Homo sapiens: one gene and its partners. The protein of the gene in region 1 interacts with the protein of each later gene in a pairwise test. Each region holds a gene or a part of one and is shown in the gene's direction. Other genes may lie near its edges. The genes, in order: MEIS2, DGCR6, ARNT2, PBX4, TRIM25, ZNHIT3 and KRTAP22-1.

Evidence for each region.
Region 2: the proteins of MEIS2 (region 1) and DGCR6 interact in a two-hybrid assay, tested with the Homo sapiens proteins (one large-scale study listed by BioGRID).
Region 3: the proteins of MEIS2 (region 1) and ARNT2 interact in a two-hybrid assay, tested with the Homo sapiens proteins (one large-scale study listed by BioGRID and IntAct).
Region 4: the proteins of MEIS2 (region 1) and PBX4 interact in binary tests that used the Homo sapiens proteins (3 or more experiments, as listed by UniProt).
Region 5: the proteins of MEIS2 (region 1) and TRIM25 interact in a two-hybrid assay, tested with the Homo sapiens proteins (one large-scale study listed by BioGRID and IntAct).
Region 6: the proteins of MEIS2 (region 1) and ZNHIT3 interact in a two-hybrid assay, tested with the Homo sapiens proteins (one large-scale study listed by BioGRID and IntAct).
Region 7: the proteins of MEIS2 (region 1) and KRTAP22-1 interact in a two-hybrid assay, tested with the Homo sapiens proteins (one large-scale study listed by BioGRID).

Annotation. Positions count from the first base shown.
Region 1 is NC_000015.10:36,891,627-36,894,549, reverse strand, and holds part of MEIS2 (homeobox protein Meis2), read left to right. Parts: intron 1-2,090; coding exon 2,091-2,377; 3' UTR 2,378-2,923. UniProt on the Homo sapiens protein: Involved in transcriptional regulation. Binds to HOX or PBX proteins to form dimers, or to a DNA-bound dimer of PBX and HOX proteins and thought to have a role in stabilization of the homeoprotein-DNA complex.
Region 2 is NC_000022.11:18,904,909-18,909,119, forward strand, and holds the start of DGCR6 (protein DGCR6), read left to right. Parts: upstream 1-1,411; 5' UTR 1,412-1,466; coding exon 1,467-1,576; intron 1,577-1,656; coding exon 1,657-1,817; intron 1,818-4,211. UniProt on the Homo sapiens protein: May play a role in neural crest cell migration into the third and fourth pharyngeal pouches.
Region 3 is NC_000015.10:80,410,882-80,414,381, forward strand, and holds part of ARNT2 (aryl hydrocarbon receptor nuclear translocator 2), read left to right. Parts: intron 1-3,500. UniProt on the Homo sapiens protein: Transcription factor that plays a role in the development of the hypothalamo-pituitary axis, postnatal brain growth, and visual and renal function. Specifically recognizes the xenobiotic response element (XRE).
Region 4 is NC_000019.10:19,570,188-19,573,687, reverse strand, and holds part of PBX4 (pre-B-cell leukemia transcription factor 4), read left to right. Parts: intron 1-2,816; exon of another isoform or gene 2,817-2,854; coding exon 2,855-3,102; intron 3,103-3,270; exon of another isoform or gene 3,271-3,388; coding exon 3,389-3,500.
Region 5 is NC_000017.11:56,900,550-56,904,049, reverse strand, and holds part of TRIM25 (E3 ubiquitin/ISG15 ligase TRIM25), read left to right. Parts: intron 1-2,471; coding exon 2,472-2,631; intron 2,632-3,500.
Region 6 is NC_000017.11:36,489,681-36,493,001, forward strand, and holds part of ZNHIT3 (zinc finger HIT domain-containing protein 3), read left to right. Parts: intron 1-3,132; coding exon 3,133-3,219; intron 3,220-3,321.
Region 7 is NC_000021.9:30,599,656-30,601,882, forward strand, and holds KRTAP22-1 (keratin-associated protein 22-1), read left to right. Parts: upstream 1-1,431; 5' UTR 1,432-1,465; coding exon 1,466-1,612; 3' UTR 1,613-1,727; downstream 1,728-2,227. UniProt on the Homo sapiens protein: In the hair cortex, hair keratin intermediate filaments are embedded in an interfilamentous matrix, consisting of hair keratin-associated proteins (KRTAP), which are essential for the formation of a rigid and resistant hair shaft through their extensive disulfide bond cross-linking with abundant cysteine residues of hair keratins.

The DNA of each region.
Region 1 (2,923 bases):
CTGATGTGCACTTTTGAAAAGGCCAACTGACAAGCCTGCGTGTGTTTTAAGCAGGTGGGACTGCCTTTTAGCCTATTTACTGTGGCCCCAATGTGCACAAACACAGACATCAGGCAGATATTGGACATTTAAGAATAAAAATAATGTCTTGGGGGCACCAGTTGACTGAGAGAAATTAAGCAGGCTTCAATGAAGCGATAAAAAAAAAAAGGAAAAGTAGAACTGTCCTTTGAGTGACATAAATCTGTCAGAATACGATTGATGCCCAAATTATCTTATATGCAAAGATGAAATGCTGCAGTTCATTATGCCTAGTCTAGATATATGACAGCAGTGACACCATTGATTCTTCACTAGGGAGTCGGTGTGTTTTGATTATTTTTTACATGTGCCTACTGACTTCCGACATGAGACAGAAAGACAGGAAAGTCAGTCAATAAATTTAAAGGGAAAGACATTTAGGAGCAACTGAATATGAAGGAATGGATTTTTCACTGAGGCTGAATGGCTGCAGTTGGATTAAGAAACCCATTAGACTTTAAAGCTTCAAGTGTTTTTGACATCTGAAAAAAATTCAGAGTCTGCCAACAAGATATATCCTTTGCTGAAGACACCAGAGCATAAAAAAATTCATATAACATTGAAACTTCCTTGTTTAATGAGGCTGAATATAACAACACGTACCTTGATTAAATCATTCTCTATATGTAAATAGAGGCCAACATTTTATAGGGGAGCTCAGGGGGTCACCACGGCACACCATTGATGAAGCCAATTTCCTTCCTTCCTTCCTTTACTAATGCAGTCAAAAAATGTAGAAAGCAATGTTCCCTAAAACAGCTATAGAGAAAACATTTGCTCAGCTTGGATAGTTCTTAATATAGGCCATATAATTTCTAGCCTATTTAATTACATAACATATTTTATGCTTCATGACCAATTACATTAATAGCTTAATACAGAAGAATATTATCCTCTCTTGATTTGATTATGCAGCCACACAATATGGTATATTTGGTACTTAATTATCATCATCCATTGAGCAGGCTGCTGTGGTAGAATAAACAGAGAGCTGGGACTATGCAGGCTGTGTTATTGTCTTTAGATGGTTTTGCCACTTCTGTTAATAATGGACTGCGGATCTACTTAACAAAATGACTGCAGCATATAAGCCTTTAGATTACCAGCTTACAGTGTCAAAAACATCTGTTCAGCTTTTCAACTGTATGCACTGGAGGTTAAATAGAGGTGAATAAAGCTGTCCTTTTAGATCCGGGGATGTGCAACAGTAAATATAACCTTAATTCAATAAACAGGTAACTTGTAAGAGAAATCAGAATCCTTACAATTGCTGACTTCCCACCATTTAACTCATAACTTTGAATGTTGCATATCTCAATTGAGAATTTCTACATTTATTACATTTTATTCCTAATATCAAGGCATTATTTGGGGGGATTTTCAGAGATAAACTACCGGGCATGTCATATGACCTCACATTGACTTCTTACCTTTGACCTTTACAATCTCTTGGGTGTACTGCTATAGGAATGCCTCTAATTCAAAAAGGGGGCTTCATTTTAAATACACGTAAAAGCTCATTTCTTCAAAATGAATATGCTGTAATGTTTTGTGTAATAAATTTTTCATGAGGAAATATAGATATGATAAGATGTCAATTTTATTTTATTCTACTATCTACAATTTTTGTCCAGGTCTACAAATGCAACACAGAAAAATAAATGATCTATCAACAGTTAACTGATAAAACTCGACTCAAAATTTATATTCTTATTGCATTTATCAAAGAAATGTACTGAATACCATTTTGAAAAACAGTTCCACTTTATGACATTTAGTTGCATTAAATATTTAGTTCTGTTGTGTTGCATTATACTGCTGTGCGATGAAATTAAATGCAAACTACAATTTGAATGTCTGCAAACATTGGCAAGAATCTGCAGCTAAATTTAGGTATAAGATTTGCAGTGTCTGTTGTTTTTTTTTTTTTTTTCTTTTCATCTTTGATGGGTAAAGTATAAAAATGTTTAGGAATTTGACCCGCTTTCTTTTTCCCTCTCTATTTTCAGGTTTGCAGAGCATGCCAGGGGACTACGTTTCTCAGGGTGGTCCTATGGGAATGAGTATGGCACAGCCAAGTTACACTCCTCCCCAGATGACCCCACACCCTACTCAATTAAGACATGGACCCCCAATGCATTCATATTTGCCAAGCCATCCCCACCACCCAGCCATGATGATGCACGGAGGACCCCCTACCCACCCTGGAATGACTATGTCAGCACAGAGCCCCACAATGTTAAATTCTGTAGATCCCAATGTTGGCGGACAGGTTATGGACATTCATGCCCAATAGTATAAGGGAACTCAAGGGAAAAGGAAACACACGCAAAAACTATTTTAAGACTTTCTGAACTTTGACCAGATGTTGACACTTAATATGAAATTCCAGACAGCTGTGATTATTTTTTACTTTTGTCATTTTTCATCAAGCAACAGAGGACCAATGCAACAAGAACACAAATGTGAAATCATGGGCTGACTGAGACAATTCTGTCCATGTAAAGATCCTCTGGAAAAAGACTCCGAGAGTTATAACTACTGTAGTATAAATATAGGAACTAAGTTAAACTTGTACATTTCTGTTGATCACGCCGTTATGTTGCCTCAAATAGTTTTAGAAGAGAAAAAAAAATATATCCTTGTTTTCCACACTATGTGTGTTGTTCCCAAAAGAATGACTGTTTTGGTTCATCAGTGAATTCACCATCCAGGAGAGACTGTGGTATATATTTTAAACCTGTTGGGCCAATGAGAAAAGAACCACACTGGAGATCATGATGAACTTTTGGCTGAACCTCATCACTCGAACTCCAGCTTCAAGAATGTGTTTTCATGCCCG
Region 2 (4,211 bases), on another chromosome or scaffold:
TCCACTGGACAGGGGGCCCTTCCCTGCCTGGCAGCCGAGGCAGAGAGGGAGAGGAGACAGAGAGAAAGATAGCTTATGCCATTATTTCTGCATATCAGAGACTTTTAGTACTTTCACTAATTGACTACTGCTAGCTAGAAGGCAGAGCCAGGTGTACAGGATGACTAGGCATAATAAAGGCAGACTAGGAGCGGGACCACTGAAGCACAGCATCACAGGGAGATGGTTAGGCCTCCGGATAACTGCAGGCAAGCCTGACTCATGTCAGGCCCTCCACAAGAGGTGGAGGAGCGGAGTCTTCTCTAAACTCCCCCGGGGAAAAGGAGCCTCCCTTTCCCGGTCTGCTAAGTAGCAGGTGTTGTTCCTTGACACTTTTCACTACCGCTAGACCACGGCCCACCTGGCAACGGGCATCTTCCCAGACGCTGGCGTCACCGCTAGACCAAGGAGCCCTTCTGGTGGCCCTGTCTGGGCATAACAGAAGGCTCGCACTCTTGTCTTCTGGTCACCCCTCACTGTGTCCCCTTAGCTCCTATCTCTGTATGGCCTGGTTTTTCCTAGGTTATGATTATAGAGTGAGGATTATTATAATACTGGAATAAAGAGTAATTGCTACCAACTAATGATTATTGATATTCATATATAATCATATCTAAGATCTATATCTGGTATAACTATTCTTGTTTTATATTTTATTATACTGGAACAGCTCGTGTCCTCGGTCTCTTGCCTCAGCGCCTGGGTGGCTTGCCGCCCACACCAGCCACCAGAAGCTCCCCAGCCCCGGCCCAGCAGCTGGTCTGGGGAGCGGGGAGAGGGCAGTCTGGGCTCGCGGTTCCGGCTGGGGGCTGGGCACCCCGGGGCGACCACGGCAGGCCCAGATGGGGACTCCGGTTCCAACTCTCCTGGCCCAGAGGCTCTAGGGTGGTCTTGTCTGTCTCACTCCGGGGGCAGAGAGGACGCAGACAGACCCCAACACCACTGCTCGGCCGCGATGGTGCCTTAGACCCAGGTCCTGTGGGCTCTGGCCCGAGACCCCTCCCTCTGGGAAGGCCGGTGACCGGGACAGTCCACCTCGCAGGCGCGCCGGCGCGGAGCCCGGACCTCAGCCCGCAATGACTCAGCAAGGGCCGGTGGGATTCTACATGGTCCTGCGATATCCAGGCGACGGAGTCTCGCCTCTAAAGTGGCCCGGGGAGCAGGAAGGTATGAGCCTCAGCTGAGCGAAACCCTCCTTGCAGCCACCACGGAGGGACGGGGCGCGTCTCCTTCTGAATGACGCAAGGGGCGGGGCGCGTGGTGGGGCGGGGAAGGCGCGAGGCGCGCCGCGATCGGGGACTGTCCTAAGACGGGCGGGGCGCGCTGCGCTAGGGACTGTCATAAAAGGGGCGGGACGCGCCGCGGTCGGGATGACGTGAGCTGGGGGCGCTCGTCGCTGCAGCCGGCGGCTAGCGGGCGTCCGCGCCATGGAGCGCTACGCGGGCGCCTTGGAGGAGGTGGCGGACGGTGCCCGGCAGCAGGAGCGACACTACCAGCTGCTGTCGGCGTTACAGAGCCTGGTGAAGGAGTTGCCCAGGTACGCGGGCGGGGCGGGCGGCGGCCTGCCGAGGCCGCATCGTGTCCCGCCGGGGCTCACCGCGCTCCTCTACCCCGCAGCTCATTCCAGCAGCGCTTGTCCTACACCACGCTGAGCGACCTGGCCCTGGCGCTTCTCGACGGCACCGTGTTCGAAATCGTGCAGGGGCTACTGGAGATCCAGCACCTCACCGAAAAGAGCCTGTACAACCAGCGCCTGCGCCTACAGAACGAGCATCGAGGTGCGCGGGGGCAGCGGGAGGAGGTGCCGCCTCCTCGGGGTCGGCGCCTCCCGGCAGCTCTTGGTATCTGTGCAGCTCGGCTCCTTCCTTGGGAGTGTTCGGAAGAGGTCCCTAAGATTAACAAAATCAAGGGCGCAGAGACTGAGACAGCGCCTTTTTGGTGACCAATGTGTCCAACGAGTTTTGTTTTCAGTTGCGCAGCACCCACCTTCTTAGCAGAAACTCCCTGTTCGGGCTTCCCTGTGCCCCACCCCCTTCCAGGCCTGATGGCCCTAGGCCTCCGTGCTTGGTTGGCCGGCAGGCTGACTCTGGTGGTAGATCTGACTGCGTTGCCCTCCGGTAATTGGAGTTCTGTTGACAGGTGAGCAGCGCCCTTGGGTAGTTGGAGGTCTGTTGACAGCTGTGCGCGCCCTTCAGGGTCAGTTCCCTCTCAGGCCTGCAGGGCCTCATTCTAGTTGCACATCAAATTCCTAAGCACTGTCTCCTGTGGCGCCCTCCCAAACCAGAAGAGCTTCCCACTTGAGCCGCATGCTTCCTGGGCTTCGGAGCCCTTTCCTGCAAATTATATAGGGCAGGTCCCCCTGCACCATCAGATTTCCACCTTTGCTGTTTTATTTTTCCCAAACTTCTTATTTTAAAAGTTCAAACATTTGGAAAAACTGAAAAGACAGTGTAGTGCATACGCTTGTGCTCTCCACCGAAAGTTCAGTAGTTAACATTTTGCTCTAGTTCTTGACATCCCAAAATACATACATGTGACAGCATAGAATTCACCAAGAGTCTTCAGCATTCCTGGAGACCAGGATTTTCAACCCAGCCATGCTGACATTTGTGGCTGGGTAAGTCTTTATGGTGAGATGCTGTCTTGCGCATTGCAGGATGGCAGGGGTACCCTCCCTAGTCGTGAAAACCAAGAATGCCTCCAGACAACCTGGGTGGTGGGGTCAACCTTGGCCTTGGATTGGGAGCAAGTGCTCTAGAACAAGAGCGGTCTCCTACACAGCTGCAGAGGGTAGCCCCCTGAGAAATTAACTGTTCCAGGTGTCTCCTGACTTTCAGTGCATGGCCACATCATGGTACCTAACTTGTGGCAAATTGTTGCTTTATAAGTAAGGATCCAGTCCAAGTTCATGTACTACAATTGGTTACTTTGGTCTCTTTGCTTCTGGAACAGTCCCCAACATTTATTGTGGCATTGACTTTTTATAGAGTCTAATTCTATAATTAGAATGCCCTGCTCTGGATCTATCAGAGGAAATGCTTCCTCGTGCATTTAACCTGCTTCTCCACTCTCTGGGTTTACTGTACACTGGACTCCTGGTAGGAGCCTGATTAGAGGCAGGTTTAATGTGGCAAAAATTCCTCCTAGCGGGGCAAGGCCCCCTTCCCCAGAAGGCAGGCAGTGTCCATCTGCTCCAGGATTGGTGTGTTTCTATCAAGAATGGATGTTGGATTTTGGCAGTTTCCTTTTTGGCAGCTCTTGAGATGATCACGTGGTGAATCATTTTCTATTACTACAGTGAATTACAGTCACTTGAATTCCATCCTACTGGGTCGTGCTGTAGTATCCTTTTTATGTATGCTGGATTTGATTTGCTAAAATCTTGTTAAGAATTTTTTTGTCTATGTTCATGATAAACTGTGGTCTATAGTTTTCATGTAATACCTGGTTTGGGTATCAGGGTTTTTGCCAGCCTTATAGGATGAGTTTCGAAGTGTTCTCTCCTCTTCAGTTTTCCAGAAGAGTTTGTGTAGAATTGGCATTACTTCTTCCCCTAAATGTCTGGGTGACTGTCTTTTTAAAAATTTTATTGAGCTGTAAGATGCATGCAGTTTACTAATCCCAAGTGCATGGCTCATTATTCCTTAATGCTCAGACTGTGCCATGTGTGGCCAGTTGGGGGCGCTCCAGGCACCTTTAGATGCCGCCCCATCATTCTGTGAGCACTTTCTTGCTTTCTGGTTCAGGTATGTGTTCAGGCTCATCTTTTCTTGTTTTCTCCGTGTCTCAGTCCTGGAATCGGCCATTTTTCCACAGAGTTGTAGTTCTTTCTAGCAGGATGGGGAGTTTCAGTAACTGCCTGGGCCCAATGCTGTTTGTGCTTCAGAAGGTTTGGGCCAGGTCCTGGTTCCACCAGCAGCAGGCATGCCTGCGTTGACTTTCTGCTTCTCCTGCTGATTTGGCAGGGGTGACTGGCTGCTCCTGCCTCCTTTGTGTTCCCGGTCGTGTCTAAGGCCAGGCCCCTTCTGCCCAGGCAGCCGGCGTGGCTCTCTTCTTGCCTTTTGGTTGCATATCTAGTGGAATCTCGTAGTGGACCTGGCACTTGTAGCAATGTTTGATCAGTAGAGTGAAGATGATGACATTTCCCTGCTTCCCTGTGTTATGGAGCTGTC
Region 3 (3,500 bases), about 44 Mb from region 1:
TGGGGCAGGTCAGGCTGTTGGACTAGCTCACCACACGAAACTCTTTGTTCAATGAAGAAAAGTTATTTCTCAGTTTTAGCCAAGCTCCTTTCCAATTGAGGGCTCTTGTTTATGTTGTGTCCCTCTTCTTGGAATGATTAATTGCTCACTGTCCCTCCTTCCCTACCCTTACCCCCTCCTCACTCCTAACCATTTTCCTGTCCAATTCCTACTTTTCTTCTGGTCTCAGCTTGAATTCTTACTCCATTAGGGAAATCTATCCTGATCCCTTTATCCAGGTAAAATGTACCTATCATGCATTCTTCCAGGGCCCCATAAAGCTGTACTTTGCTTCTGGAGCACTTCGCCTCATGTAAATTGTGCAGTTATTTGATTGATACCTGACTGGAAGCCCTGTGAGGGCAGGGAATGTATCCAACAGTATGGCAGCCCTGGCACCTACCATATTGCTTCCCATACAATAGATACCCAGTAGGGTTTTGTTAATGAATAAATGGAGGGATGCCAGGGAACTGTCTTTTATTTTGTATGTGGCTGCCTTTCAATGACTCCCTTGAAGGAAAGAAAGCATATATCCTATATTTGTGGGTCTCTGTAACAAAATAGTCCAGAGCTGTCTAATTGAGATTCTGACTTTTATTTGTGGAAACTGATTTTGATCTGAAAATCCTACCAAGATAATCCCTATGCAAACTAGTTCCTCTAGACTTTCTAATAAGGAGCCTTGGACACACAAAGCTCATCATTCTTCCCAGAAGAAGATTAGGTCAGAATTGAACAGTCGAATGTATTTATATATTTTTATTTTATACTGCTGTCCACAAAGGTTACACCAGAGGCTTAGAGAGGCTCAGAGACTTACCTCGAGTCCTCAGCAGGTGGGTGGGTGAGGAGGTCCTACACCTACCTGATACCTTGGACACACAAAGCTCATCATTCTTCCCAGAAGAAGGGTAGGTGATAGCTTGGAGACTGGCTGGTGGTAGTGGTAGGTTCCGTGTTACAGTCCCACAGGGTCTTCTCAGAAGGGAAGTGGGATCCTCCCATTTACTGCCTTCTGTGTTGTGTGTGAAACTATTGACATGGCTTGCTTAATTACCAGCAGTTACTGATAAGACAGACTCCAGGCTGGCTTTGAGATTCAGCCACCCCAACAGCATTCAGGAAGGCAGCAACAAGGTCAAAAGATGCATTCATTGCCCTCTGATTGAATAGTGCAGGCTTTAGAGTTGGAAGCTGAGGCTCTTTGCAGATAAGCAGAGACTCTGTGGCTGCCAAGTCTATAACAATTTGACCATTTTTTTCAGGGAAATCTACAAAAATGCCAAAATGTTTACAAATAGGTACTTCCTGCTTTTGTACATTGTATGAAAACATGGGACATCTCTTACTGTTTTGGTTTCATTGTGAGAACATACAAAGCAGAGGTTGGAGCTCTTCTCCTAGCCCCTGCTGAGGAGTTGGTTGCTTTCTTCACCACAACCACTTTTCCCCCACAATAAAGATCTGTGTTGATTGTAAAAAATTTGGAAAATGCACAAAAACACTAAGATAATTCTGCCACCCATAACTAACATTTTTGCGTATATCCTTACAGACTTTTTTCTAAATATTGTGTGTGTGTGTATATATATATATATAACAAAATAGAATTATTTCGAGCATATTGCTTTGTCATCCCTTTTTTCCCTTCATTAATGGTATATCCTATCAAGGATACTGATTTGAGAAGCTGCATATATTCTGTTTATGGCTGTGTCATAATTCATTAACTCACATTCTTATATCTGGGCATATAATATTTGGTGTGCTTTTCTGTTTGCCAGAATTGTACACACCATTGTATTGAACATCCCCGTATATGAATGAATATATGAATACATGATTTTTTCCTTATTGTCAATTCTTTGAAGTAGAATTGAACAGTCAAATGGATTTATATACTTTTATACTGCTGTCCACAAAGGTTAGAACAGAGGCTCAGAGAGAGGCTCAGAGATTTATCTGGAGTCCCCAGCAGGTAGGTGGATGAGTAGGTCTTACACCCAGACGCTGTGCCCCCTATCCTTGGCAGGTTCCGGCAACCCAGGCCAGGCCCTGTTGCCTGTAAGTCTGGAACTCAGATCATCTACTGATGTCTATAAAGGGCAACTGTGTACCTTTCCTGGCCTCCTTTCAGTGATTTAATAATTTCAGTGGCTTTTTAATTAACTGCTGTTAGGGTAATTGGTCCAGGTCAAAACAGGCAGGAAGTTGCCTTACTCAACAGGCAGAGAGCCTCTGATGGCCTCAGTGGGCCGCTGCAGGGGCCCCATGACTGGGCTCTCCATGCCAACCTGGGTTCTCATCTGAGGCCCCATTGTTCTCCCTCCACCCCCTCCCTTACCAATTCACCTCTTCCATATGGCCTTTCTCAAACGCTGGTGCCACTAACTTACCCAGAAACCTTTGCTCACCGTCTATTGTCCACACATCCTCCTAGGATTGACCTACACACTTCCAACCAGACCACCTGGCTGACAGGGTGGTCCCAGGGCTTAGAGAGCATGCGGCCAGGTGATTTCTGGTCCTGCCTGCCTGCCTGTGATACCATTAGGCAGGCCATGGTGGTTATTCCTGTTTCAAATGCACATTCAGGAGTTGTTAGTAACTGAGGATAAATGTGTTTGTTTCTGATTTGGCCATCCCTACTTTTCTTCCAACAACTCTAAAAAAGTGGAGAGCAGCTGCAGGTGGAACTAGGCATCTCTCTATCCAGGCTTAGGTGGCAAAAGGAAAGACTCTGAGGTAGGACAGCCTGGGAAGATTCAGGGGTGCAATGTCCAGGGTGGGAGCACCAGAGGAGTTGGCCTGAGTGGAAACCCAGCTCTTCGGGTAGAGCCAGGCCTTCCAAGAGACAAATTAGCTGAAGGCCTTACTGGTGGCTGAGCGAGGGAGGTGGGGCCAAAGGAGAGGAGGGTGGCCTTCCATATACTCTGCCTGTTGAGTAAGGCAACTTCCTGCCTGTTTTGGCCTGGACCACCCAATTACCCTAACAGCAGTTAAAAAAGCCACTGAAATTATTAAATCACTGAAGGGAGGCCAGGAAAGTTACACAGTTGCCCTTTATAGAGGTCAGTAGATGAGCTGAGTTCCAGACTTAGAGGAACAGGAAGCCAAAGTTAATTGGTGCACCAATTTTTAAATTAATAGCCACACAAAATAGTATTGTCTTTCTTATCTTCAATAGACCTCTAAGTTGGGTGGCAGGACATGTGAGAAACCTGGGCACAGAGGCCAAACGTGTATCCACACAGTGCTTCTCAACTGGGGGCATTTGCAATGTCTGGAAACATTCTTGGTTGCCACACCTCCAGGGAGTAGGGGTGCTACTGGCATCTACGGGTAGAGGCCAAGGATGCTGCTAAACATCCTACTGTGCACAGGGCAGCCCCCACAGCAAAGAGCTTATCCAGCCTCAAATGTCAATAGTGCCAAGGTTGAGAAACTCTGGTCTATGG
Region 4 (3,500 bases), on another chromosome or scaffold:
ATAATTTACTTAACCAATCTCATGTATTAGCTATTTTGGCTGTTTCTATTATAGTTTATGTTCTTATTATCAAATTAGACAAATTTATGTCTAATTTGCATGACTAATTTGTGCCATGGACATTCGCTGCCTGGGTACTGGAGACTTGTGGTTAAGTCTCTGCATGTCTGCAACTTTGTGCCGCCATCTATTCTACCTTGAAAGTTTAACAGGGTGTGTGGATTCTTCTTGAAATCTTCCCACTTTTCTCATATTGCTTTTTCCAATTTTAATTGAGTAAGAAACAGTTTTGGAGAAGGTGGGACACTATCCTATATGTGTGTGTGTGTGTGTGTGTGTGTGTGTGTGTGTGTGTGTATATTTTTTTTTTTTCTTTTTTTTGGAGATGGAGTTTCGCTCTTGTTGCCCAGGCTGGAGTACAGTGGCGTGATCTCGGCTCACCGCAACCTCCACCTCCCGGATTCAAGCGATTCTCCTGCCTCAGCCTCCCAAGTAGCTAGGATTACAGGCATGTGCCATCATGCCCGGCTAATTTTGTATTTTTAGTAGAGATGGGGTTTCTCTGTGTTAGTCAGGCTGGTCTCGAACCCCTGACCTCAGGTGATCCACCCACCTTGGCCTCCCAAAGTGCTGGGATTACAGGCGTGAGCCACTGCGCCTGGCCAACACTATCCTGTATTAAGCACCAGGTTTGTGGTCAGTCCTTGGATCTGGTTGCTAATTTTTTTTGTCTCTTGTTCAAAATCCTGGTTTATAAAATTTGTTGCATGTGTGCTTAATAAACTAGCACTAAGTGTTGAAGTGGAAATCTCTTTTTTTTTTTTTTTTTTTTTGAGACGGAGTCTCGCCCTTGTCACCCAGCCTGGAGTGCAATGGCGTGATCTCGGCTCACTGCAACCTCCGTCTCCCGGGTTCAAGCAATTCTCCTGCCTCAGCCTCCCAAGTAGCTGGAATTACAGACACTCGACACCATGCCCGGCTAATTAGTAGAGATGGCGTTTCTCCACGTTGGCTGGGCTGGTCTCGAACTCCCGACCTCAGGTGATCCGCCCACCTTGGCCTCCCAAAGTGCTGGGATTACAGGCGTGAGCCACTGCGCCCAGCCTGAAGTGGAAATCTCTAAGGAAAATTCTTACAAGGATATCGCTTGAGTTCCTTCAGTTTTGACTAGTGAGTTTTTGACAGAAAAGGTTCATCTGTTATGTAGGGAATAAGAAAGGGACACTTGTAAATGACTATATGATATAATCAAACGGAATTGTCATCTGAGCACTAATTCGGTAAGTAGCTGACCTTATTAAGATAGCCTGATTCTGGCCCGGTACGGTGGGTCATGCCTGTAATCCCAGCACTTTAAGAGGCCAAGGCAGGCGGATCATGAGGTCAGGAGTTCGAGACCAGCCTGGCCAACATAGTGAAACCTTGTCTCTACTAAAAATACAAAAATTAGCCAGGCATGGCGGCACGCATGTGTAGTCCCAGCTACTCGGGAGGCTGAGGCAGGAGAATCACTGGAACCTGGGAGACAGAGGTTGCAGTGAGTGGAGACCATGCCATTGCACCCCAGCCTAGGTGACAGAATGAGATTCCATCTCAAAAAAAAAAAAAAAAAAAAAAGCCTGATTCTAAGAGAACACTTTTTTTTTTTTTTTTTTTTGAGACGGGGTCTCTCTATCCCCCCAGCTGGAGTGCAGTGGCAAGATCTCAGCTCACTGCATCCTCTGCCTCCCAGGTTCAAGTGATTCTCCTGCCTCAGCCTCCCTAGTAGCTGGGATTACAGGCAGGCGCCACCACGCTTGGCTAATTTTTGTATTTTTAGTAGAGACGGGGTTTCACCATGTTGGCCAGGCTGATCTCGAACTCCTGACCTCAAGTGATCCGCCCGCCTCAGCCTTCTAAAGTGCTAGGATTACAGGCGTGAGCCACTGTGCCCGGCCGTGAAGCCACCTTTTCACTCAGCCCCACCTGCACAAGCTGCAGCTCCAGGCTTTTTACTTGGGAGAATGCGATGCCATTGGCTGTGCTGCCCATGGCAGAATCTGGGAATGACCCTGGAGTCTTCCCTTCTCTGACACCCGTGTCCCAGGACACGAATCCTGGGGGTTCTCTGACTGCCCTGTAGCTGACCTGCAGACCCCACAGCTGTGTATACCTTGATGGTGGCTGCCCTTTGACTGCTTCCCCTGCAGTCCAGCCCTGCCCCTATCCAGGTCCCCTCTCTGCAGAGCTGGGACGGCATTTCCAAATTGTAGGGCCCATTATCTTGTTTCTCTGCTTAAAATCTTTCAGTGGGTTATTTCATCTTTTCTGGCACTTTCTTTATCAGGCTTTTCCTATCCAGTTTTATAACAGCACCCCCACCCCAACACACACACACCCCACCCACCAGCCACAACAGGCCTACAGCTGCACAGTCCTGGGCCCAGGCCAGCCACGCTGCCAATGCCAGCCTGCCACTTGCCTTTATCAGTATGCAGCATCTTGGGTGCCCCCTCTTCCCCAGCACTTCTTGAGACTCGGTTCAGGGGTTCAGGTGACCCCAGCAACAGGCGCCTGCCTGGCCCTGCTGCGTGCACACAGCTGTGACCAAGGTTTGCCCTCACAGGCTATGCCAAACTGCGACCTGTGTCTCCCCGTTCCTCCCCAGACTGCGCTCTAAGGATGGCACTTGGACCCATGTCTTAGCGGGGTGCTCAGTGTCCATCATCCAATTTGGTGATAAAGTGGAGTATTCCTTTCTCCCGAAGGGTTCTATGCAAAAATCTTCAGACATAACACCAGTGCTCACATTTTCTCATGGTTTGTTTTCTCTCCAGAAAATGAATTGTGACTTGTCCCGGTCTCTCTTATCTAGTGGTAAGCATCCGTGGCATTCAAGACGAAGATCCCCCTGACGCCCAGCTCCTGAGGCTGGATAACATGCTGCTGGCTGAGGGCGTGTGCAGGCCCGAGAAGAGAGGAAGAGGAGGAGCGGTGGCCAGGGCCGGCACAGCAACACCAGGTGGCTGTCCAAATGACAATAGCATTGAGCACTCTGACTACAGGGCCAAGCTGTCCCAGATCCGACAGATTTACCACTCTGAGCTAGAGAAATATGAACAGGTGATCTTTCTGCATGGAAGAGTTTCTGTCATGTGAATGCGCATTTGTCAAAGCGAAACACGGAACGCTAACCACCTTTCTTTCGTGGCGCAGAACAGGGAGTCCATGCAGTTGGTCGCTGCAGAGGTGGTCCATTGTTACTGAAAGCCCTTTCCATTTACTTAACAGTCACCCGCCGGTGTGTGAACTACAGGGGGTGGCAGGCGGCTGCTCCGCTGTGGAACCTGCTGCCCTGTGCCACCCTGCTGCCTAGTCACAGGCCGGCGTGTCTGTGCTCCCACCCCAGGCCTGTCGTGAGTTCACCACGCACGTCACCAACCTCCTCCAGGAGCAGAGCAGGATGAGGCCTGTCTCCCCTAAGGAGATTGAGCGCATGGTCGGCGCCATTCACGGCAAGT
Region 5 (3,500 bases), on another chromosome or scaffold:
GTTTCTCTGGCTCAGGAATCTGGACATGGCTTTATGGGTGGCCTGCATAGGGTCTCACCAGGCTACAGTCTGCGAGGGATGGCCAGGCTGTTTCCTTTGGAGCTCAGGGTTGTCTTCCAGGCTCATGTGGTTGTTGGCAGAATTTAGTTCCTTATGGTTGTAGGACTGAGGCCCCCCGCAATTTCCTGCTGGCTGTCTCTCAGATTGATAGCTGACTTCTTCAAGGCCAGCATGAGAATTTCTCCTCTAGAAAGATGCAATCCCTCTTTTAAGGTCTTTTACCTGATTAAGTCAGGCCCACCCCAGATAATTGCCCTTTGATGAACTCAAAATCAATTGATTTGAGATGCTAATTACACCAGCAATATTCCACCCCCTTTGCCACATGACATAACCTAATCACAGGAGTGATATCCTATTTCATTCACCGTCCTGCCGATACTGAAGGGGAGGGCATACTATAGGGTATGTACATCAGTCGGGGTCGGGGGCTTGAGGGCCATCTTAGAACGTTGCCTGCCACTCACACTCCACCTCTTCCTCCCATCCTTCCTCCAGCAGCTCCTGGAAGTGTGTGTTAGTAGTCCCTTTTGCATTGCTATAAAGGAGTACCTAAGACTGAGTTATTTATTTATTTTATGTATTTATTTTGAGATGGAGTTTCACTCTTGTTGCTCAGGCTGGAGTGTAGTGGTGTGATCTTGCTCACTGAAACCTCTGCCCCCAGGCTCAAGTGATCCTCCTGCCTCAGCCTCCTGAGTAGCTGGGATTACAGGCGCACGCCACCATGCCCAGCTAATTTTGTATTTTTAGTAGAGACGAGATTTCACCATGTTGGCCAGGCTGGTCTCGAACTCCTGACCTCAGGTGATCCACCCACCTCGGCCTCCCAAAGTGCTGAGATTACAGGTGTGAGCCACTGCGCCCAACCAGACTGAGTAATTTATAAAGAAAAGAGGTTTATTTGGCTCACAGTTCTACAGGTTGTACAAGCATGGCACCAGCATCTGTTTGGCTTTTAGTTAGGCCTTTGGTGAGGAAGGAAGCTTTTACTCATGGCAGAAGGTGAAGCTGGGAGCAGGCATGTCACAGGGTTAGAGAGGGAACAAGAGACAGAGGAGGAAGTGCCAGCCTCCGTTAAACAACCAGTTTGTGCAAGAACTCACCTGTTACCATGGGGAGGGCACCAAGCGGTGCATGGGGAATCCACCCCCACGACACGAACACCTCCCACCCTGCCCCACCTCCAACACTGGGAATCACATTCCAACATGAGATTTGGAGGGGACAAACATCCAGACTGTATCAAAGTATCTGTCTAAAGCATGGGCCCCCTGCTGTTTCTGGCCTCATGTCCCTTAACATGGCCTGCAGGGTCCTAGGTGACTGGGCCCCGCCTGTGCCAGCAGTCTCATCTCATATCATCCATCCCTGGCTCATGCCCTATGCACTCACTGTTCCCCAGACACAGTGGGTGTGGGTGGGATGCCATGCTGGGCATTCTTGCCTAGTGAGTCGTATCCTTCCAGGGCCTTGGATCCCATTGCCATGCCGTATCGGTGTTCCCAAGCATGCCACACTGTTTCTACAGTAACATTGGGTGATGTTGTTTCAGATGTGCATTTTTTCATGGCTGTTTTGACTGTAAGCCCATCTCTTATTACCCCCATTCATCCTCCTGCCAATCTGACCAGCACATAGCAGAGTGCTTGGCATATAGTGGTGTGCCCCATTGATTGAGTGACCTGCAGCTATACCTGAAAGACCCAGATTCCTTGTTCAGATCAGGGGGTGGGGAGACAGTGCAGGAGTGAATGGGAACCTTGTCTCTGTGCACTGAGGCCTGATGCGTGCCTAGTCTGGATGGCGTTAAGTTTCATCCCAAGTGTTCATTCCTGTCTGTTGGAGCAGCTGCCCCGAGCTCTCGAAGGATCTGAGTGCACATCTAGGCTTCTTGATACTGTACAACCCTATTTTTCTCAAAGTTTGGGACTTCCAGGAAGACCCTCCCTTCCCATAAGATATTCCCTGGCTGCAATCCACATCCCTTGAGATGTCCCTGTCTGTTACCAGAATGTGTGATTAGAGCTGTTCCCCTAGGATTGGGGTGGTCCTGAGTTTCCTGTGCTTTTCCACCTTTAGCTGGAAAAGTGGAAAGAACATTGTCCTGGGGGATCGGAAGATCTCAGTCCCAGCTGTGTCTGTGCCCCTAGCTGGTGGAGTTCCTGCCATGTCTAGACCTCAGTTTCCCCATCTGTAAGATGAGTGACCTCTGGGGTCCCCTCCAGCTCCAGATTACTGTGTCTTCAAGTGTCATTTAAACTCCTGGTGACCTCTGGCCTGTAATTTGAGAAGGCCAATTGGACTTAGCACTCTTGGGCATAGGGGAGAGCCTCCTGGGGTTGGTGAGGACTGAGCCCAGGTCCCCGTTTCACCAGAGCTGCCTGCACTAACCCCCTGGCATGTTCCAGAAAGCATCAAAACTGCGAGGAATCTCAACAAAGCCAGTCTACATCCCCGAGGTGGAACTGAACCACAAGCTGATAAAAGGCATCCACCAGAGCACCATAGACCTCAAAAACGAGCTGAAGCAGTGCATCGGGCGGCTCCAGGAGCCCACCCCCAGTTCAGGTGACCTTAGCAGCCCCCTATGCTGCCCCCTGTGGAACCCTGCAACCCGATGGGTCCCCTAAATGTTTTGGGATGGGAGATTGGGGCGTGATCCCGAGCACTGGGGCCTGAGTTTCAGGGCTCCTGAAACATCCGCCCTCTGTCTGGAGGCTGGTGGGGAGTCTGCTTCATCCTGACATTTTAGGATCTTTCCTAAAGCATTTTTGGGGACTTGATGTTAATGCTTGGACTTTCTGGACAGATAGGCTCTTTTGGCCTGTGATCTTGAGGCCAACTTGGATGGGTTTTGAATAAGCTAGGGCTTGTTATTGTGTTTGGTGGGGGAATGGCCCGTTTGGGGGAGAAATCTAGAATTCCTCTTTGACACCCCCTTTTCATCACCCCATATCCAATCCATTGCCAAATTTCACTTCTTTCAATCTCCTGACTCAGTCTGCTGATCCTAGCACTGCTTGCCTGTTCTCCATTGCCATCACCTGTCGCCCCATGACTGTAGCAGCTTCCTAAACCCTCTGCATCTGCCGCTGCAGCCAGAGAGGGATTTTCATGATGCAGAGCTCATGTCCTGGGACCTATTCTGCTTTGCCCTCTCACTAGGCTTCCTATTACTCCCTGATGCAGACCAAACCCTTGACCCTGGTCTAGATGCCAGGTCAAGCCCTGTTGGTCTCTCTCCAGCCCCAAGGCGCCCCCCACTCTCCTCTGGTGCATCTCTCTGCATTCAGTTCCTCAAATATGCAAAACTTCCTGCTACAGGGCCTTTGTGTTTGCTCTTCCCCACTCTCCAGAAGGCTTGAACTCCACCGTCTTCACTAATTAACTCCTCTCACCCTTCAAAGATCAGCAAAACATTACATTTATAGCCAGCC
Region 6 (3,321 bases), on another chromosome or scaffold:
TACAGTGGCGCAGTCTCTGCTTACTGCAACCTCCGCTTCCAGGGTTCAGGTGATTCTCCTGCCTCAGCCTCCAAAGTAGCTGGGATTACAGGTGCCTGCTGGCTGATTTTTGTATTTTTAGTAGAGACAAGGTTTCACCATGTTGGCCAGGCTGGTCTTGAGCTCTTGACCTCAGGTGATCCACCTGCCTCGGCCTCCCAAAGGGCTGGGATTACAGGGGTGAGCCACCATGCCCGGCCCATTTGTCCACTTAATTTTTTTTTTTTTTTTTTTTTGGCTGTTGAGCTCCTTGTGTATTCTAGATATTAATCCTTTGTCAAGTGAATATTTTGCAAATATTTTCTCCCATCCTGTGGGTTGTCTCTTCATTCTATTGTTTCCTTTGTTGTACAGAAGCTTTTTTGTGTAATAGAATTCCATTTGCCTATTTTTGCTTTTCTTGCCTGTGTTTTTGAGATTTTATTCATAAAATCTTTGCCTAGACCAATGTCCTGAAGCATTTCCCCTGTGTTTTCTTGTAGTAGTTTCAGGTCTTACATTTAGGTCTTTAATCCATTTTGATATTTATATATGGTGACAGATAAGGATCTAGTTTCATTCTTCTGCATATGGTTATTCTTACAGTTATCCTATTTTTCCAGTACCATTTATTGAAGAGTGCTTTTTTCCCCAGTATATGCTCTTGGTGCCTTTGTGAAAAGTCAGTTGGCTGTAAATGTGTGAATTTATATCTGGGTTCTCTATTCTGTTCCATTGATCTATGTGTCTATTTTTATGCTAGTACCATGCTGTTTAGATATTATAGCTTTGTAGTATATTTCGAGGCCAAGTAGTGGTGATGCCTCCAGCTTTGTTCTGTTTGCTCAGGATTGCTTTGGCTATTGGGGGTCTTTTGTGGTTCCATATTAATTTTAGAATTTTTTTTTGACATTTCTGTGAACAGGATCATTGGTATTTTGATAGGGATTGCATTGACTCTAGATTACTTTGGGTAGTATGGTCATTTTAATATTTATTTTTCTTATTGGTGGATATTTACATTAATTTTGCCTTTGTTGCTGCTATAGGCAGTGTTAAAGTGGTATTTAATAAATAATTTTTATCAGAAATTTCTAATAGCCACATCTGTTGTACACTTTTCATTTGTCTTTTTTATTTTTTTGCAACAAAGTCTTGCTCTGTCACCCAGGCTGGAGTGCAGTGGTGCTCACTATAGCCTTGACTTCCTGGGCTCAGGCAGTCCTCCTACCTCAGCCTCCCAAGTAGTTGGGACTGCAGGCGTGTGCCACCATGCCTGGCTTATTTATTTTTAATTTTAATTTTTGTGGAGATGAAGTCTCACTGTATTGCCTGGGCTGGTCTTGAATTCCTGGGCTCAAGTGATCCTTCCACCTTGGCCTCCCAAAGCGTTGGGATTACAGACGTGAGCTACCCATGCTCAGCCTGTCATCTTTCTTGATTCCCATGAATATCTGCTGTGTTTGGCTTTTTCTTTCTTGATATTCTTTGGAGGCTGGGAAGATACCGCTCTGTGGTATTCTCTCCTCCCTTTCTCCCTTCGAAGTCCTAACCAGGCCTGACCCTGTTACAGCTTCTGAGGTCAGATGAGATAGGGTGCATTCAGGGTGGCTTAGCTGTAGACTCTCGTTTTCTTTTTTTTCCTTTTTTCGAGACAGGGTCTTGCTCTTTTGCCCAGGATGGAGTGCAGTGGTGTGATCACAGCTCATTGCACCCTTGGCCTCCTGGGCCCAAGTGATCCTCCCACCTTAGCCTCCTGAGTAACGGAGACAAACTTTATCTATTTTTCGTAGAGACAGGGTCTCACTGTATTGTCTAGGCTGGTCTTGGACTCCTGGGCTTAAGCAGTCCTCCTGCCTCAACCTCCCAAATTGCTGGGATTACAGGCAGGAGCCACTGTGCCCAGCTTCTCCTTCCTTTTGCTAGATCTCTCTCTTGAAATGTGGTCCTTGACTTTTATTCCTAGGTAGGTGATCTCTCTTTCACTTTAAACTTTTTTTTTTCTTGCTGACATCCAACTGTTTAGCTCCAGCCTCTTTTTGAGCACCTTAGACACAAATGTATTTTGGGGTCAGGTACAACCCAGAAAATTCACCTCTCCTTCAGTCCCTCCTGCTGTGTTCCTTACACATATAGCATAGCCGTAAAGTTAGACCCGGATTCCAAATCTGCCTCTGCTACTTACTAGCTGTGGACCCCAATGGACAAGTTTATTACAAGAAAATTTAATCCTTTCATCTGTAAGTGGAATTAACAGTCTCCATGTCATGGGGGCTTCGTAAAGGTTCATTGAGCCACTATGTATCTCACTGTGTACCTGGCACAGTGCTCGGCACTTAGTCACTGGCAGCTGTTGTAACTGCCACCTACATGACTAGAACCTTTCCGTAGCATATTGTCAAATCTACATTTTAAGTCTCTACAATCTGGTCCTGCCTTTATGTCCTCAGAACCCTTTCCTGTGACTTCATGCTCTGTTGATACTGTCACCCAGGCTGGAGTGCAGTGGCACAATCACAGCTCACTGCAGCCTTGACACACTGGGCTTAAGGGATCCTCCTGCCTCAGCCTCCCAAGTAGCTGAGACCACATGTGTGTACCACCATGCCTGGATGATTTTTTTTATTTTCTGTAGAGACATAGTCTTGCTAGGTTGCCCAGGCTGGTCTCAAACTCCTGGGCTCAAGTGATCCTCCCACCTTGGCCTCCGAATGTTAGGATTACAGGCGTGAGCCAGCACAGCTGGCCTTCTGTTGACTCTGTAAGTTCTTTGGTGGTTTTGCCCCTAGTTTTATCCCATCTGGTATCTGGTTTACAGCAGCTATTTCAAACACCTCAGTTAATTGTGGTGAGAATTTTGTAAGATTCGGCAGGGTAGGGAGGATGGGGACAGGTTCTTGGGGTGCATGAATGAGTCCTGCTTTCTCAGCCTGCTGGCGGTTTTCCTTAATCTCTCTCTTGCTTTGATCTCTCACTTCTTCCACATTCCTGGGCACCCACCCACATCCCTTACCCCAGACACTTGCTTCCTACCTAGATGCTACCTTGGTAGGGAGGTGCAGCCTTGTCGCTGAAATGGAGGTAATGTGGGCCTGGGATTTGTGTCTTTTTCAGAACAGTGCAACCCTGAAACTCGTCCTGTTGAGAAAAAAATAAGATCAGCTCTTCCTACCAAAACCGTAAAGCCTGTGGAAAACAAAGGTGGGTTGGTTGACTTCAAACAAATCTACAAGGGACTTCACATAGAATAAGTCGAAGGAAAAGGGGAGAGTGGGGCTGGTCAGGGAATCCAGAACAATAGCT
Region 7 (2,227 bases), on another chromosome or scaffold:
TCCATCATTCAACATCCCTAATATTAATATCTTTCATAACCATAATCCACTTATCACACCAAAGAAATTAACTGTGTACAGTATTCTTAACTAAACTGCAGACTTTATTTTACCATTTTTCTGTTATTATTAACTTATTTTATTTTAAGTTCTAGGACCATGGTTCATTGTAGCACTATTCACATATTTATTTTAATGTTCTTTTTTTCTGTTCTTGGATCCAATTCACATTGCATTTGGTTTTTATACTTCTTAGTCACCTCCAATTGCTCATGGTTCATTCGTCTTTTCTTGGCTTTTATGACCTTACAATTTTAGAGAGCCAGATATTTTGTGGAATATTCCCCAATTGAATCTGTCTAAGGTTTCCTCATATGTAGATTGAGGTTATACATTTGGGAAGAGATGTAACTCTTGTCTTGTGCCATCTCAGGGAGTCATGATGCCAATAAATCTTTGAGTAATTCTGGAATTGTTTTAAAATTCAGATTTTTAATAGAAGTCCTTTTCTTACTATATACCCAGAATCAACGAAGTCAAAAATCAAAGTCTTTGCCACGGTTTAGAATCATATATAAAATGATAGCTACATGTGAAGTATAAACCAAAGAGAATGATATTGCTCCACAAAAAGTGATGAAACACCTTATCACTCAACATTTTACAAGTGAATGCTGCCACCATGACTTCTCTTACACGCTTATCATCCTTCCTTATCACTTTGGAGCTACACTCTTATTCCCAAGTCTGCATATATGTATTTAGGCTGAAGGATATTATTGGGTGAAAGTAGGATTTTTAAAAAATGGAAGCCATCACGTCCATAACCCCAGGCTTTGGGAGGCCGAGGCGGGCGGATCTTGAGGTCAGGAGATCAAGACCATCCTGGCCAACATGGCGAAACCCCATCTCTACTAAAAATACAAAAATTAGCTGGGCGTGGTGGCACGCACCAGCTATTCATAAGGCTGAGGCAGAGAATCCAGGAGAATCACTTGAAACCAGGAGGTGGAGGTTGCAGTGAGATTGTGCCACTGCACTCCAGCCAGGCAACAGAGCTAGTCTCTGTCTCACAACAACAACAACAACAACAACAACAAGTGGAAGCCATGTGGGTTACTCTTGGTTGCTGGTAATGTAGTTTAAATTTGACATCTGAAATAAACGAGTCATCAAAATAGGAGATGGATCTCTTATTAAAGGTACATTATTTCATTATATTCAACATTCCTGAGAAACAGCAAAGTTGTCTTGGATGTATTGGTTACAAGGAATATTTTAGATGGTTTCAATGCTAATTAGTGTGGAATGTGAATCTAACAGTGCCTGTGATTTGTCCCACATACCATTCATGTGGCATTTAAGGCCCTTATTATAAGCTTAAAACTTTAAACTTAAAACTCTATAAACTTAAAACTCTAGAATCTGATCCTGCTATACAACTGAGCCTACCTTTCTTGAAACCATGAGCTTTGATAACAACTACCATGGTGGCCAGGGCTATGCCAAAGGAGGCCTGGGCTGCAGCTATGGCTGTGGTCTTAGCGGCTATGGCTATGCCTGCTACTGCCCATGGTGTTATGAAAGATCTTGGTTTTCTGGCTGCTTCTGAGAAATTAGAGATTGCTGATCTGTTTAGGCCATTCTCTTATGAGCTATGTTTTCTTCCCGTGTTTTTTTCTGTTCAAAGAGTGACAACTAAAATTTAGCCCACATTGCCAAGTCAGAATTTATTTGATCAATTAGCTGGAATTTCCAACAATTTAATCAAACGAAAAAAGAACCTTTGATGTTGTGTTACTAGTATATGATTAAGTACAAATAATGTTAAGCATTTTCATTTGGGAAAAAGTCTAAATTTATTTTTCTTCAAAGGTAATTTATTTTGCAAACCTACAGCATTTTCCTACCTATATTTATTTATCTAGAGTACCTATATTATTTGTGATTGTGTGTGTGTGTTCAGGAGCACATATGTAAGGTTGCTGACCCATTGGAAACTTACAGTTGATGATGTGGATGTGTTAGGTCTGACCAATAGTACTTTGATAAAATGTATTCTCATGGGCAGAGCCAAGTGGTACTATAATTTACTTTGATCTATCAAAGCCTCATCTTCAGTGTATCCAATGTTTGACTAAAATCATTGGCAAAAATAGTACCTCCCTTCTCATCACTTTATTCTGTTGCACATACATTACATTTCTTGATACTTAGTTGCATTTTT